3 linked regions of the Homo sapiens genome follow. The protein of the gene in region 1 interacts with the protein of each later gene in a pairwise test. Each region holds a gene or a part of one and is shown in the gene's direction. Other genes may lie near its edges.

Region 1 (3,732 bases):
GCCTCATAGGGGAATGTATGGACATTAGCTTTACTCTGAGTAAAGAAGGAAACTATTACAAGATTTGGAGCTTGGGGGCACATGATCTGACTTACACTTGACAAGCATCACTTTTGCTGCTGTAGTGAGACTAGAATAGATGGAGTCAAGAGTTGGTGAGGGGGACCACTAAAAACCACCACAATAGGTTGCTCTGTCTATGGAGTGCCATTCTTTTGTTTCTTCACTTCTCTAATAAACTGCTTTCACTTTACTAAAACAAACAAACAAAAACTACCACAATAACTCAGATAAGAGATGAATGTGGATGGGGCCAAGGTGATTGCAGGGAAGGAATGAAGGATGAGAGAATTCTGCATTTATTTTTAAGGTAGTCAGCATTATTTCGTGAAATATTGGATATGGTTATAAAGAGAGGAGTCAAAGTTTTTTTGGGTTTATTTTGTTTGTTGATTGTTGTTGTTGTTGTTTGAGACAGAGTCTTGCTGTGTCACCCAGGCTGGAGTGCAGTGATGCAATCTCTTGCTCACTGGAACCTCCACCTCCCAGGTTCAAGTGATTCTCCTGCCTCAGCCTCCCGAGTAGCTGACATTACATGTGCGCGCCACCATGCCTGGCTAATTTTTGTATTTTTAATAGAGACAGGGTTTCACCATGTTGTCCAGGCTGGTCTTGAGCTCCTAACCTCAAGTGATCCATCTGCCTGGGCCTCCCAAAGTACTGGGATTACAGGTGTGAGCAACCGCGCTCAGCCAGGAGTCAAAGGTTTTATTTACTGAATAACTGAATCAGTGGAGATGTCACTAATTATAATGTGGAAACTTGCAAATGGTTCAACTTGGTGGGGGTGTTCAGCTTTGAATATGTTGAGTTTAAGATGTCTACTCAAGTGAAGCAGGAAGTTGAGTACATGAGACTGGATTCTGAGAGACAGAGTTCTCACCTGGAGATATAAATTTGGAATTCTTTGGCATATAGATGGTAATTACACCCATGAGGTGGATGAGATAACCAAAAGATTGAGTGTCTATTAAGAAGACCAAGGATCAAGTCCTAGATAATTCTTCTATTAAAAGGACCAGGCCAGGTATAGTGGCTCACACCTATAATCCCAATACTTTAGGAGGCTGGGGCAGGCAGGTCACGAGCTCAGGAGTTCGAGACCAGCCTGACCAACATGGTGAAACCTTGTCTCTACAAAAAATACAAAAATTAGCCAGGCATGGTGGCGAGCACCTGTAATCCCAGCTACTCAGGAGGCTGAGGCAGGAGAATCACTTGAACCTGAGAGGCAGAGGTTGTGGTGAGCCGAGATCGCACCACTGCACTCCAGCCTGGGTGATAGAGCGAGACTCCATCTCAAAAAAAAAAAAAAATGAGGACCAGGATAAAGAGAGGAACCATCAACTTCCTCTCAGGGAGACTGAGAAGGGGAAGCCAGTGGAGTAGGATTAAAAACAACAGTGTTCAGTGTCCCAGAAGCCAGGAGAAAGTGTATCAAGGAGGAGGAGTGACCAACAGTGTCAAATGATGATTACGGGATAAGTAAAATAAGATATGAAAATTGACCACTAGATTTGGACATGCAGACAAAGCTGCTCTTGATGAGAGCAGCTTTGGTAGAATAGTTGGGAATAAAATCCTGAATAAAGTGGATTAAGAGGGAATAGAAAGAAAGGAATTGGATACAGTCAGTATAGACAACTTTTTCTAGAAGTCTTGCTGCAAAGATATGGAGTGATCCCTAGAGAAGAAAGTGGGATCAAGCAGTATTTTTCTTAAGATGGAAGAAATTGCATATTGTTTGCATGGGAATAATGTGAATAATTCAGTAGAGAACAAAGGAAATTATGTAGGAAAGAAGAGAGAATTGCAAGGAGAATGTTCCTGAATAGGTGAGAGGGGATGAAATCTAGTGCTCAGAGGAACTGGCTTTAAATAGGAACACAGACAGCTCATCTAATGTGAATAAGCAAGGAGGCAGGTGTGGATGTTGGTAGATACCAGAATACAAGTTAAGAGCAGCACAGATTTTAAATCCAGAACTAGAGAAGAAAAAATGAGGGTGAAAAGTGGGAAATTATTCCTTTAGAATAAGTGACTGAACTTTCCTGAGAGCAGAGTTTTTTTGGGGGAAAGAGTCAAACAGGAGAGCTGTCTATGAATAAGATGATGATGATAATGGTGATGATGATGATGATGACGACAATGAAGATGATGATACATGTTTAAAACATGTGGATTATGCTTTAGAGTTTTCTAAGCACTTTGATTTCCCTGATCACACTTGATCTTCACAACAGCCCCCTGAAATATGTATCGTTTCCACTTTACAAACAGAGAAAGTTGAGGTTCAGGGTCAACACAAAGAATAATAACAATAGTAATAATAATTATGGTAATAGCATTTGTTAAAAGTTCACTACATGACAGGCACTATTCTAACCGTTTGATATGTATATGTGTTATTTTAATGATAATAACAATCCTAGGAGGTATAAATCCCCATTTTATTGATGAGGGAATTGAGGCTTGGAGAGGTTCAGCAACTTGCCCAAGGTTACATAATTCATCAGTAGCAAAGGCAGGATTCAAACCCAGGTGGTCTGGCTCCAATAGCTGTACCTGAGGGTGGGAAGAAGACAGCTCAGATCACCCACTGAGTTTGTCCCTCTACTCTGACAAACCCCATGAGCTGCAGGGCAGAGGGTACAGTTCTGATCCCCAGTGGTCCCCGTTACTGGATCCCCAGACTCCTGAACCAACTTACGCTGTCCTCTTTCCTGACAGGATTGTCCTGGCACGATGACCTCACCCAGTATGTGATCTCTCAGGAGATGGAGCGCATCCCCAGGCTTCGCCCCCCAGAGCCCCGTCCAAGGGACAGGTAGGCAGCCTTTCTCTACAACTCTAGCAATGGTGAGGCTGATGAATCTGTGGTTGTCCTAATTGATGGAGAGAAGGGGAAGGAAGTGGGCACCAAGGCCAGCATGCTGGGGCACAGGTAAAGAGGTGCAGGAATGGTCACTCTCTGACATGCTCACATGACCAAGAGGAGCTGAGCTCATCTCTAGGGATCCAGAAAAACGGGCATTTTTTGAATGTTTTGAAAAACATTGACATTGGCTACTTTAAAAGAAGCATCAATGTAGTCATCATGGGAGAAATTAGAATGCTGTTGGACTGAAGTTGTTCAATATTCCATTTCATTACTATGTGAATTTCTATATGACAGGAGCCACCATCATCTTTTTGTGGTTAGGGCCTCTAAAGGCATCATTCAGACTGCAAAGCAGAGGAAAGTAAATGAGGTTTAGGGAGCTCAGATGATGATACCAGGATGAAGATGGCATAGTGGTGGGGGGTGGAGGAGCAGTCCTGAATATTTGGACATATACTTGGAGAGCCAGGTGTGGGGACATGGCACACAGGGGCAACGGGGACAGCTGCAGCCACAGTTCATCTAGAGAAATTCCTGGTTGCCTTCCCCTGCTCCTGTTTGCCCCTTCTCCATCCCCAGCCTCATGATTACCCAGCCTTTGCAGTTGTTTCAGAGACTCAGCCATGCTCACCAGGGAGGCAGATACCTCTGCCCTCAGCTTGGCCCTCTGGTCCCTCCCCATTCCCACCCAGCCCATCTCTCTTCCCCTGAGGTCACTCAGTTTCTAAAGAGGTCAGGCCTGCTCTTAACCGCTGAGCCTGCCTGGCCCCGAATAGTTCTGCCTTGCAGGC
Region 2 (3,500 bases), on another chromosome or scaffold:
GCCACTCATTCAACAGACCATTGCTGGTTGCCTTCTCTCTGCTCAGTTCTATGTTTGGCACAGCCTCAGTCTAGTAGGCTCACATTTTTTTGCCAGCAGTGGATCAGGGCCGGGCTGTGGGAATGACAGGAAGAGGGACATGTGAGAAGCATTTGGGGCGTGTCCTGGAGATCTGAATTCAGTGGCTCTGGCTAAGTGAGGACACTGTTCTTGTGGCAGACTGTGACCCTGCCCCCTTCCCACAGCTGGCTTTGGGGGCATCCTGGGGCTGGGCAGCCTAGGCCTGGGCTCTGCCAACTTCATGGAGCTGCAGCAGCAGATGCAGCGGCAGCTGATGTCCAATCCTGAGATGCTGTCACAGATCATGGAGAACCCCCTGGTCCAGGATATGATGTCTAACCCTGATCTGATGCGTCACATGATTATGGCCAACCCCCAGATGCAGCAGTTGATGGAGCGGAACCCTGAGATCAGCCACATGCTCAATAACCCTGAACTCATGAGGCAGGTGAGTATGAGAGGGCTGGAGAGCTGGAGGACACTGGTGCCCAGCCGTGCCCTGCCCAGCCTTTCCTACTTTGTCCTACATTGATTTGTTCATTCGTGTATTCAGCAGTTTTGAACACTGGAGGTACAGGGATGAAAAGACAGGCCTAGCTTTTCAGGAATTCCAGGTGTCAAAGGGAAGTAGGACAAGTAAACCGGCAATTAGAATACAATGTGGCCATTGCTATCAGAAGGATAATCATGGGATCCTCTAGGAGCATAGAGAAGAGCTCCTGACCCTACCCTAAGGCTTAGAGGAGGCCTTAAGAAATGTCACCGAGCTGAGACCCAAAGGAGGAAGACGAACCAGGGGGAAAGAAAGAAGAACATTCAGGGCTGAGGGACAGCAAATATAAAGGCCTGGGAGTGAAAGATAGTAGGTTGTTTGGGGAGCACTGTGGCTGGGCAGGGCCCAGTTGGGAATGGAGAACCAGGGGAGACTGTTGTGATGTTGCTCTTTGGGAGTTCCAGCTCATGGTCCGCTCCACCAGAGGACCAAGGTAGATGATCTTCCCAGCAGGGCTGTGGACACCAGTGCTGGACTCACCAGAAGATAATTTATGTAAGGTCAAGGACTTGTGAGTGTTTTGTTCACTGTCTAGAACAGTGCCTGGTGCGTGGTAGTCATGCAGTAAATATTTATTGAATGAATGAATTACGGAACAAGAGATCAGAGTTCTGGGAAGCTGGGCATATCAGTTATAAAGGAGTCTTAGAAAAGGCAAGTGTGGAGCACATTTGGGAAGGAGAGGGAAGGTATTCCAAGTTGAATGGGAACAAGTAGTTATACTTATTTTTCTGTGATGAACTCCCCCGGGGTTGACATAGCCACCCCTTATTGAGATTGTGCCATTGGCTCCATAGAAGAAAGCCCCCATCTTCAGTGTTTCTCAAGGTTCAGGCAGAGCAAAGACTTGGGGGTGGGAATTACAGGGTGTCAGTAGCTTTATTCCAGCTTGAACGCTTTCCTTCCCCAACTTGCAGTCATTTACCAGGAATCACAGTATGGTCTTGGACAGACCAACCAACCTGGCTTTGAACACTGTCTTCACCACTCAGTGACTGTGTGTCCCAGGGCAGCAAGTCAATTAACATCTCTGAGCCTATTTGCTCATCTGCAAAATAGGGACAGAAATAAACACCTGAGATGGTTATTGTGGAGATTACATGACTTGAATTCCGTAAGCTACTTGGCCCTGTGCCCATATACAGTAGGTTCTCAGTAGATGTTAATTTTCTCTTCTGCCTCCTCCCCTTTCTTTCTGTGTCTCTTCTGACTCAGTTTCCTTGTGCACCCTGACACTTCTTTGGACACTCTGAGCCTAAGGGAGGGAAGCTGCTGCCCTCACTTCAGCTGGGATCATTGTCCTCCACTAGAAAAAGCCAACCAAAATACCCACAGGGAGGCGGGCTTGGAGCCAAGATTACAGTAGAGGAAGGAAGTCCAGTTTACTCTACTCCCTGTCACTGTGGGGCAGTTCCTGGGCCCTGGTCCTGATCCTGATACAGACCCCCCTTCCTCAAGGCCCACCCTTTTCCTAGGTTGGTGCTCCCCTGGTTCCGGGGCCCATTTTGTCTCTCTCCCTTGATCAGACAATGGAGCTTGCTCGGAATCCAGCCATGATGCAAGAGATGATGCGGAACCAGGACCGGGCCCTGAGCAACCTTGAGAGCATCCCTGGAGGGTATAATGCCCTCCGCCGCATGTACACGGACATCCAGGAGCCCATGTTCAGTGCTGCCCGGGAACAGGTGGGATCAAGGGCCAGGGTAGTGGGTTGGGCTGTCTGGGCTCGAGATTCCCTACCCCCACCCCAGGCAAACCTGGGCCTGCTCTTCTTTCTTTCCCCAGTCCCCTGAGGGGTGGGCCTTGGCTTGAAGGCAGTTCTCAACAGTACATATCCGGGGATGGTCCATTTTGGCATGGACAAATATAAGCAGAGGTCCTTGTGGAAGTGGTTGAGGCATAGCATCCAAGGAACTTGACATCCTGACAAACTTCTTGTACCAGGGGCTCAAAGGTCACGTGGCAGGCCTGAGGTCAGACGCCAGCCCTGATACAGCATGTCTCAAGTATGGTCCATGGATCACCTGCATCAGAATCACCTGGGGACCTTGTTGATAATGAGAATCCTGGTCCCCACCTTTGAGCTACTTATTGAATCCATTTCTGGGGTTGGGCCCCAGGATTATACACTTTTAAAAATGCTTTATGAATCCTATTCAAGTACACACAAAAAAATAGATAAAAATGTAACATTCTTTTTTTTTGTTTTTAATCAATGTTGCCCTAACATGTTGCCATATATAATTTCAGTGCCCTTTTGGTTCTTTCTTTCTTTCTTTTTTTTTTTTTTTTTTGAGATGGAGTCTCGCTCTATCGCCCAGGCTGGAATGCAGTGGCGCAATCTCGGCTCACTGTAACCTCCGCCTCCCGGGTTCAAGCAATTCTCCTGCCTTCTCCCTGGTGGCTAAGACTACAGGTACATGCCACCACGCCCGGCTAACTTTTTATATTTTTAGTAGAGATGGGGTTTCACCATGTTAGCCAGGATGATCTTGATCTCCTGACCTCATGATCCGCCCACCTTGGCCTCCAAAAGTGCTGAGATTACAGGAGTGAGCCACCGCGCCTGGCCATGGTTCTTTTTAAAAATTTAATTTTACATTAAACACATTCTATGTTTGTATGTTTGAAAATGCAAAAGTTGGCCAGGCGCAGTGGCTGACACCTGTAATCCCAGCACTTTGGGAGGCTGAGGTGGGCGGATCACGAGGTCAGGAGATCGAGACCATCCTGGCTAAAATGGTGAAACCCCATCTCTACTAAAAATACAAAAAATTAGCCGGGCATGATGGCACATGCCTGTAGTCCCAGCTATTTGGGAGGCTGAGGCAGGAGAATCGCTTGAACCCGGGAGGCAGAGGTTGCAGTGAGCCAAGATCGTGCCACT
Region 3 (3,732 bases), on another chromosome or scaffold:
TTTTTACTTGTTGTTAGGAATAAGTGATAAACTCTAAACTTCTCACATGCCATACCAGAAACTGGAAGTCTCCCTTTCCTTTTTGCCCCACATCTTGACAAGCTGATAAGAAAGCCCAAGTGCTACCTTGGTTGACACCAGCAGGAAGTTTCAACCATGCAAGCTCAGGCCTACATGAGGGAGCTCTTGCTCTAGCCCCACCTTCTAAAACCACAAGCCAGTCAGTCAGCCTTCAGGTTCTCAAGTCATTTTGGGACATGCTTGGGATCTTGCCTTGCTCTCCCTGGAAAGCCTTATTATATGTGTAATAAACCTTTTGGTATCCTCTTAGTACCTCTTGGTACTTTGGCATTTCAATATCTGATTCAAATTTTGGGTGGGGGAGTTTATTGTCTCTGGAGGGTAACCACAACATCTTGCAAGTAGAAAATCCAAATGAATTAAGAAAACCATTGGAAGGCCAGGTGTGGTGGCTTATGCCTGTAATCCCAGCGATTTGGGAGGCTGAGGCAGGCAGATCTCTTGAGGTTGGGAGTTTGAGACCAGCCTGGCCAACATGGTGAAACCTCGCCTCCACTAAAAATACGAAAATTAGCTGGGCATGGTGGTGCACATCTGTAATCCCGGCTACTTGGGAGGCTGAGGCAGGAAAATGGCGTGAACCTGGGAGGCAGAGCTTGCAGTGAGCTGAGATCGCGCCACTGCACTCCAGCCTGGGCTACAGAGTGAGACTCCATCTCAAAAAAAAAAGTTAAGTATAATTTACTGTGCAACTCAGCAATTCCATGTCTTAGAATCTGCCCAAGATAAATGAAAACATGTCCACGCAAAGACTTATATATAAATTTTTATAGTGGTGTTATTCTCGACAGCCTCAAACTGAACCCATAAATTCATCAACTAGTGAATGGATAAATAAAATATGATATGTCCATTCACTTGAATATTTTCATCAGTAAAAAACTGATACATGCTGCGACATGAATAAAACTCAAAAACATTAAGTGAAAAAAGCTAGACACAAAAGACTTCATATTGTATAATTCTATTCATATGAAATGTCCAGAATAAGCAGATCTGTAGAGTTAGAAAGTACATTAGTGGATTGAGGTGAGATTGGGAACCAGGAGTAACCACAAATGGGCGTGGGGGATCTTTTTGTAATGATGGAATCATTTAAAAATTGGATTTTGGTGATGATTATATAGCAATGCAACTAAATTTTTTTTTTTTTTTTTGAGACGGAATCTTGCTCTGTCGCTCAGGCTGGAGTGCAGTGGTGCGATCTCGGCTCGCTGCAACCTCCACCTTCCGGGTTCAAGGGATTCTCCTGCCTCAGCCTCCTGAGTAGCTGGGACTACAGGCATATGCCACCATACCCGGCTAATTTTTGTATTTTTAGCAGAGACAGGGTTTCACCATGTTAGCCAGGATGGTCTCAATCTCCTGACCTCGTGATCCGCCCGCCTCGGCCTCCCAAAGTGCTGGGATTTCAGGCATGAACCACCGTGCCGGGCCACTAGATTTTTTTACTAAAAATTATTGAATTGTACATTTAGGTGAATTTTGTGTTATGTAAATTATACCTCAATAAAACTGTTAAAAATATATTAACACAGAAGGGGAAAAAGGCAGTGCTTTTAGATAGGAGGAAGCAAAATTTTCTGTATTTGTAGGTAATATTTTAAAAGATGACTTGAAAAATTATTGCTATCAGTAAAGTGTAAATATATAAATAGCCTTTTTATATTTCAGCAGTTACTTGAAAAGTAAAAAATTTTCTTAATAATAGTACTAAGAATGTAATATAATAAGGAATAAATTTAATAAATGTACAACTTCTCTGAAGAAAATTACAAATCATAAATAATAAAAATGGGGAAACAGTTGATAGTTAACCCAGTATTTTTCTACTTCATTTATAAATTGAAAGCAATTCAAATCAAAATTACAGGCTTTTTTAAAAAAACTTGATACAATGTCTAAATCATATCTAAAATGCTGATTATTAAGAGCATAGCAAAGACATTTCAGCAAAAAATAATGAGGGGTTCTTGCAACTGTAAAATTAAAATCTGTATAAAGTTACAATAAAGAGGACAATAAAGAGGTATTGGTAGATCTGTGGAATGGAATTGCAAGGTCAGGAACAAAACCAAGCACCCACAAATAAGTAAAGGTGATACTTCACATTCGTGGTTTAAGAATAGACCATTCTTGGGCTGGAACAGTTATTAACTATTTGGAAAGAAATTATAACTATATTCAGTACAACAAAATTAGTTAACATTTATTATGGTGCTTATGTAAAAAAATCCATAAAAGATTGGGGAAAATATAGAAGTAAATGTGTCTCTGATTTCTGAGTAGGAAGATATATAAATGTGTACATATACAAGTTGACCTTTGGACAACACTGAAAACAGCTTTGAACACAATAGCAATGCTGACATCTGCCCTGTGCAGTTGAAAAATCCACATATAACTTTTGACTCCCCCAAAACTTAACTACTAATGGCCTGCTGTTATCCAGAGGCCTTACCAATAACATAAACAGTTGCTTCACACATAAATAGATTGGTGTCTACATATATTTTATGCACTTAAAGACATACATTTTTCTTAATTTTTTTTGATATTTCTAGGCTAGACAGTTTATCTGCGAGTTTTTTCAAATTATTGCACATTTCCAAAACATTTTTCAATATATTTATTGAAAAAAATTCATGTGGCCTGGCATGGTGGCTCATGCCTGTAATCCCAGCACTTTGGGAAGCTGAGGCGGGTGGATCACTTGAGATCAGGAGTTCGAGACCAGCCTGGCCAACATGGTGAAACCCTGTCTCTACTAAAAAATAAAAAAAATAGTTGTGGTGGCATGCACCTGTAGTCCCAGCTACTTGGGAGACTGAGGTGGGGGAGAATAGCTTGAACCCGGGAGGCAGAGGTTGCAGTGAGCCAAGATCATGCCATTGCACTGCAGCCTGGGCAGCAGAGTGAGACTCCATCTTAAAAAAAAAAAGAAAAAAGAAAAAAAAATTTGTGCGTAAGTAAATCTGCACAGTTCAAACTCATGTTTATCAACTGTATGTATTTTTAAGCATAAGAACTAAGAAACTAGGAAACAGGAAACACAGTTTTGGCCACATAAAATTTTTAAACCTATCTATGTCATAAATACTATGGAAGACATTAAATGTAAACAATGCCAAAATAATAGTATGTGCAGGTAATGGATAAAAGCCCTAATATATCAAAAAGAAAGGATAGCTCAGTTGAAGACTGGACAAAGGACATGAATTTGTAATTCACAGACGTACCACAAATAACTTGTAAACCTAGGGAAAAACAACTTTTTTCTACTAATCAGAGAAATGCAACTTAAAAATTACATACCACTTCTGGCCTATCAAATTGGAAAAAATAAACTAAGAGAATGCAGAAGACTAGATTACTTGCATACTTTTATTTGGAAAATAAGTTTATGCATCCTTTTTGAATAGCAGTTTAGTAATTTAAGTCAAAAGCCTTAAAAATGTTTATACTTATACCTTTTGGCCCAGAAATTTCATTTCTGTGAGTTTGTCCTAAGGAAACAATCAAATGTATAAAAAGATTATTTGTGGAGGGATTATCATCATACCTTTATTTAAAATATCTATAAATAGAAAATCTAAGTGTTAGACAAAAATTTGTGGTACCTCCATGCAATGGAACTAGGTGGGAGAAAAC

The links.
Region 2: the proteins of PTPRN (region 1) and UBQLN4 interact in a two-hybrid assay, tested with the Homo sapiens proteins (one large-scale study listed by BioGRID and IntAct).
Region 3: the proteins of PTPRN (region 1) and TIMMDC1 interact in binary tests that used the Homo sapiens proteins (3 or more experiments, as listed by UniProt).

What each region holds. Positions count from the first base shown.
Region 1 is NC_000002.12:219,302,890-219,306,621, reverse strand, and holds part of PTPRN (receptor-type tyrosine-protein phosphatase-like N isoform 1 precursor), read left to right. Parts: intron 1-2,790; coding exon 2,791-2,887; intron 2,888-3,732. UniProt on the Homo sapiens protein: Plays a role in vesicle-mediated secretory processes. Required for normal accumulation of secretory vesicles in hippocampus, pituitary and pancreatic islets.
Region 2 is NC_000001.11:156,047,299-156,050,798, reverse strand, and holds part of UBQLN4 (ubiquilin-4), read left to right. Parts: intron 1-245; coding exon 246-508; intron 509-2,139; coding exon 2,140-2,298; intron 2,299-3,500. UniProt on the Homo sapiens protein: Regulator of protein degradation that mediates the proteasomal targeting of misfolded, mislocalized or accumulated proteins.
Region 3 is NC_000003.12:119,508,466-119,512,197, forward strand, and holds part of TIMMDC1 (complex I assembly factor TIMMDC1, mitochondrial isoform 1 precursor), read left to right. Parts: intron 1-3,732.